Linked DNA regions of Homo sapiens: region 1 is linked to region 2. Evidence: fine-mapped expression QTL. A gene starts in region 2. The other region holds a variant in brackets. All regions are shown on one strand. Distances are from middle to middle.

Evidence for each region. PIP is the estimated chance that this variant, and not a neighbour inherited with it, causes the effect. A credible set is the group of variants that fine-mapping cannot tell apart.
Region 1: its variant is the best candidate, but not a certain one, in a credible set for the expression of ATN1 in whole blood (TOPMed, PIP 0.85).

The regions. Positions count from the first base shown.
Region 1 is chr12:7,093,802-7,096,332 of GRCh38, forward strand. It overlaps C1RL (complement C1r subcomponent like), which reads right to left. Exons shown (of 6, transcript NM_016546.4): 6 at 753-2,531. Among named protein-coding and RNA genes, the nearest start is that of C1R, 2.6 kb to the left of the region's middle. The variant T/G (reference allele first, on the strand shown) is at 1,329.
Region 2 is chr12:6,926,231-6,929,245 of GRCh38, forward strand. It overlaps ATN1 (atrophin 1), which reads left to right and starts at 1,729. Exons shown (of 10, transcript NM_001940.4): 1 at 1,729-2,154. LOC124902868 (a long non-coding RNA gene) reads right to left here and starts at 1,466. Exons shown (of 2, transcript XR_007063194.1): 1 at 1,297-1,466. RefSeq lists an enhancer at 1-313 and silencers at 1,338-1,387, 1,568-1,727.

The DNA of each region.
Region 1 (2,531 bases), 170 kb after region 2:
TGTGTCAGAGCTGAGGACTGAACCTAACGGAGGGCTGGTCTGTGATGGGATCAGCATATGATCCACAGCCTTGTTAGATCAGGAAAGACAAAAGATGGGGGAGAAGGAAAAGCACCAGATCAGAGGACGAGAAGGAAGGGGAATCTCGTCTAACAAACTGCACATTAATATCCTAGCAGCAGTTTGTGTGTGTGTGTGTGTGTGCACGCGCGCATGTGCCGTATGTTCATAATGGAGGCAGAGGGAACAGGTAAGGAGGTAAGTCTTAGCTGAAGCTCTTCCGTCCATCCTAGGGATTCTCAGTTCTGCGTTGGCATTGTGCAACACGCTTGGAGAGCGGCAAACCTGGATGTCATTAGCTCAGTCCCAGCCCTGTCTCCACTCTGCCCAACCATTCAAAATAACCTTTACTCACACATTTTTGTTATGTCCTTGACTTTGTTTTGTCCTTGACTCATACCAAGAAGGAAAAAAATGCCATATGAAATGCTGCTGCGTTTGTTTTAAAACAATTATTGAGGATATAGTCGGTTACAGTGTTTGTTCCTTTAAGGATTTGATTCTTGGGAAAAAGATTTCTCTCTTAAAGTAGTGGTAGGTTTTCCTCTGTGGATATGTCTCTATCGCTAGCTCATCTATCTCCATCATCTCTATCTCTTACCTCCCTCTCTCTCTCATTGTCGATATCTCTATCTCTAGACAGAGACAGCGATGGAGATGTAGAGATATAGATCTAGACATACACATATAAATATAGGTATATATATATTTTTTTGCCTTGGCAGGGAGAAACTCATATCATTTTTTGCAATCATAAAAATAAGCAAAATAAAATAAAAACATTTCATGCTCATTAAACAAATTTTAGCCAATAGAGAATAGTGGAAAACCAAACAGCCAAAATCTTATCAATAAAACCACCTCTGTTTAGTATTTTGAGAGAATTATTATTATATTTTTGGCGATGGGGTTTCACTATGTTGCTTAGGCTGGACTTCAACTCCTGGGCTCAAGCGATCCTCTTGCATCAGCCTCCTGAGTGGCTGGGGGTATAAGTGTGCATCATTGCACCTGCCTTTTGGGAATATTTTTAATAATCTTTTGTACTGTATGTGGGTGTAAAAAACAGAAGTAATCACATGTATGTACAACTTTGAATCCTGCCATTTTTTAGAGATAAATTTAACCTTTGACCATATAGCAACTTGACTCTTGATGCTAACAAATTACCTCTCTTCTCTCTTTTATGGTGTTTATTTTCTATTTCCATTGAACAGTTGTATTTTATTTGTGTCTTTCACTGTAAATCACCTCCAATCTTTTTTTTT[T/G]GGGGGGGATGAAGTCTTGGTCTGTCCGCAGGCTGGAGTGCAGTGGCGTGATCTTAGCTCACTGCAACCTCCGCCTCCCAGGTTCAAGTGATTCTCCTGCCTCAGCCTCCCGAGTAGCTGGGACTACAGGCACGTGTCACCACGCCCGGCTAATTTTTGTATTTTTAGTAGAGATGGGGTTTCACCATGTTGGCCAGGATGGGCTGGATCTCCTGACCTCGTGATCCACCCACCTCGGACTCCTAAGGTGTTGGGATTACAGGCGTGAGCCACTGCGCCCGGCCCATCACCTCCAGGTTTTACTAAAAATTAAAGAGTTGGTCCTCTCAGGTGGAGCAGTTCCCCTGATGATAGGGGCACAGGTGGGGTGTCTGCAAGAACTTCAGTCCAGTGCTGGGCTCACCTGGCTTCTGCAGGAGATGGGGCCATTAGGAAAGTGTGAGCTAGAGGATACCATTTTCGCAGAAGCAGGAATTCCCAGGGAGGGAAAATGGTAAGGATGTGGGGGCTGGGAGGGAAAGCGGGTGACACAGCAGGTTAGAGGAGGGTTGAGAAGTATTGCAGCACACTGGGAAGAGCACAGTCTCTGCAGTCACACACCAGCTGTGGGACTTGGGCAAGTCCCTTTATCCCCTGAGCCTCAGTTTCCTCATTTGTCACACATAGATAATAACACATCCTTTGCAAATATGGTATGAGGATTAAGTGAAATAACAGGTGAAGCACCTGGCATATAGAGGACATAAAATAAAAAAGGAGCTGTTTCTATAATTGCATCTTGGAGCTGCAGAATAGCTTGAATATTTGAAGGTCAACTAAAGGGTCTTAGGAATGTTTCAGAAATGCAATGCAATGAAAACCCCTTCCTCCATACTCTAATAGCGGGTGAGTAGCTGACTCTTCCACAGGTGAGTATAAAAGCTGTGTCAACAGATGAAGTAGGGGAAGGCGGTTCTAAGGACATTCAAGGCGAAAGTTGTTGAGATGTACAGGCTTCCCGGGGCCTAGTGCATGAGCACAGGGAGGTAGAGGGTGAGGAGGAGCGGTCTGTGGGACTCTGCTTCCTGTCTGGGATGGGGCGGGCTTGCCGGGTGGGGGTTTCTCTTGCAGTGGCTTGGTGCAACAGTGATGTGAATAGGATTTCCCTGCCTCCCCCAACCCCCCACCCCCAACCCCTACCCCAGTGTTCAGTCCTCACTCCAG
Region 2 (3,015 bases):
GGATTTGGGTCCACATTAAGCCCAGTCTTCACCCGACTGCTTCCCTGTGACCCAGGGGATCTTTAGTGATGACTTTCAACAGATTTGAGAAGGAAAATGGAGATGCCACTAGATGGAAGGCCTGAGGATGGTGTCTCACTCCTCCAAGCTGTATCCCTTACCTATCTACCCATGAGCTTGCCAGCAACCTCCCCCCGCTCCCACATCTGTCATTTCCTTTAACTGCCCTCGTTTCCCATCTCCATTTTTTCTTTTTTTTTTTGAGACGGCGTCTCGCTCTGTCTCCCAGGCTGGAGTGCAGTGGCGCGATCTCTGCTTGCTGAAACCTTTGCCTCCCAGGTTCAAGGATTCTCCTGCCTCAGCCTCTGAGTAGCTGGGATTACAGGCATGCGCCACCACACCCGGCTAATTTTTGTATTTTTAGTAGAGACGGGGTTTCGCCATGTTGGCCAGGCTGGTCTTGAACTCCTGACAAGTGACCCACCCGACTCAGCCTCCGAAAGTGCTGAGATTACAGGCGTGAGCCCCCGCACCGGCCCCATCTCCATTTTCTTTTCCCATCCATGATCTTTCCTCTTCCATACTGCCGCCAGCCATAGGCCTTGTTCAGCTTACATTTCCTTCCAATCTTCTTATCCCCCTCTTCCCCATTCTGCCCGCCCAAGTAAACCCTCCTCGGCTCTACTGGGAGCCCCCACCCCCAGGATCCAGCCAGCCCGGTGTCTCCCACCCTTCTTTCCCATCCAGAGCCCTCCTTTCTCACCCAGAACCTATTTTCCCTAGAATTGGCACCTGGGCCCACCTCGTTCATCCCTTCTTAAGGTTCCTCACGCGTTCCCTCCTCTCTCTCCTCACTGACGTTTCCTCTGGACTTCTCTCTCTCCAGCATTCCTTCATCCCCCCACCCCCAATTCTTATATTTATGACTCTTTTGTCAACACTAATCACCCCCAAAAGCTTTACTTTTTCCAGAAGCCCCATCTTTCTATATATGTCATCTTTTCAATTTTTCTCTCTCCTTATGACCCCAAACTTCCATCCCATTCTCTCTGATAATAGCCCCCAAACCCGTCTGGCTCCATCTCTGCCACAGATCCCTCACCCCAAGCTTCTCTCACTTCTCACCAGGCACCCACAAAGCCCCCAGGCAGCTCCATCTTTCCAATCCAATCCCATTATCCCAATCTCTACCCCAGGATCCCCCAAACTCCTCCCACTTCACCTCTGCCACAGACCCGCTCGCCCCCAAACTTCAGCCTCCCCTCATCTGCCCTCACCACCCACAGCCCCTCCTACCTAGCCCTCTCCCGCGCCGGGCCCGCGGGCTCCCCACATTCCGCCACGGCTAGCCCTCCCCGCGCCCCGGCCCCCTCGGCCTCGGCCTCGGCCAACTCGCGCTGCGCCTCCCCCTCTCCGGCTCCCCCTCTCTCCCCCCTCGCGGCTTGCCTCGCGCTCCCTCCCTCGCGTCTCCCTCCTGGCCCCTCTCTCCTCCGTTCCTCCGCGCTCCCTCCTTCTCCCTCTTCCTCCCTTCTCCCATCCCCCTCTCCCAGGCTCCCTCCCTTCGCCGTCCGCTTTCCTGTGCGAGTCGCCGGACGCACCGCCCAGCCCGTCCGCAGCCCCGCGCCGGGTCGGGGCCTCGGGCCGGGCCATTTCGGAGGGACCGCGGCTTCGGGGAGGGGCTAGGAGGGGGGAGAGGGAGCCGACTGCCGGGGAAGGGGCGGGGGCCGCGGGCGAGGCGGCCGAGGGGCCCGGGATCGCGCGGGTGCGGGCTGCGCTAGGCGGGCGCGGGCGGCGGCGGGTCGGAACCGCGCCGAGGGCCGGGCGGGCCGCGGGGCCGGGCGGCGCGGCGGGGGCGGGCGGCGCGGCCCGGGGCATTCCGGGCGGCCAGGGGGAGGCGGCGAGCCCGGGGAGGTGGGGAGCAGAGCGGGGATCGGGGTTTGCTCCGGGGGCCGGCGGGCGATTGGGGCCAGGCGGGGAAAAGGGGGGATGGGGGCCGCCCTCCGGGGGGGTCGGGGCCGCCGCCGCCGTCGTCGCGGCGGCGACTGAGGCCGAGAAGAGGAGAGGGGGGCGGGGGAGCTGCCGCCGCCGCCCCCCAGAGGCGCCGGAGCCCGGAATCCCGCTCGGAGCCAGCCAGCCGTCCCGAGCTACCAGCAGGTAAGGTCTGCGGCCGCCTGGGCCCCGGGCCCGCGGGGTTCTGTCCCGCCCGGGCTCCGGCCTGCGGCTCCCCACCCCCACCCCTCCCAGTTCCCCCTCCTGCCGCCGCCGCCTCCATTTGTTATTTTCCCAATCCCGTCCCCCCACTGCGGGCTCTGCCTGGCCTGAGGGCCGGGGGCTCAGGGGGTGGGGCCCGCCGAGGAGAGTCGGGGGCCAGGGTTTCGGGAGGATCGGGAAGGTGGGGAAGGAGGGAGGGTCTCCGGAGGAGGCCTGTGGGGCCAGAGGGTATCCGGGACCCGCAGACTCAAAAGAGGAGGAACATCGAGGCCGGGGTTGGCGGAGGAAAACGGGGGATGCTGTGAGTGGGGTTCCGGGCGAAGGCAGAATGGATAGGAGAGATGGCAGCGAGGTGGGGCATGAAGCCTCCAGGAAAAAGCTCCAAAGGACCAGAACACGGGTTCCGGAGCCTGGGGTTGGGGGCTTTAGGAATAGACGGGAAGTGGGAAACGGGAAAGGGGTGTGGTAGGTGGAAAGAGGGATTGTGGCTGATGAACCTGGGGGAGACGGAGGCTTGGGCAAAGAGAGGTCCATTTTTGAGAAGAGCCGGAGGTTTTCCAGCGTGGAAGAGGGAAGGCCATGTCTTTGTGACGGTTTTCATTCCCCTACTGCAGGTCACCTCTGACCCTGTTTTCCCTATCCCAGACATAGTTATTTCTTGGAGAGGGCACTGGGGCCCAGTAGTGTGGGTTATCCCAAAACTAGTGAGGAGGAAAACAGGAACACAGAAGGGGGAGTTGGGAAGAAAGGGGTTCTGGGAGGATGGAAATGGAGAATTGAGCAACCTTACAGGCACTCCAGGCA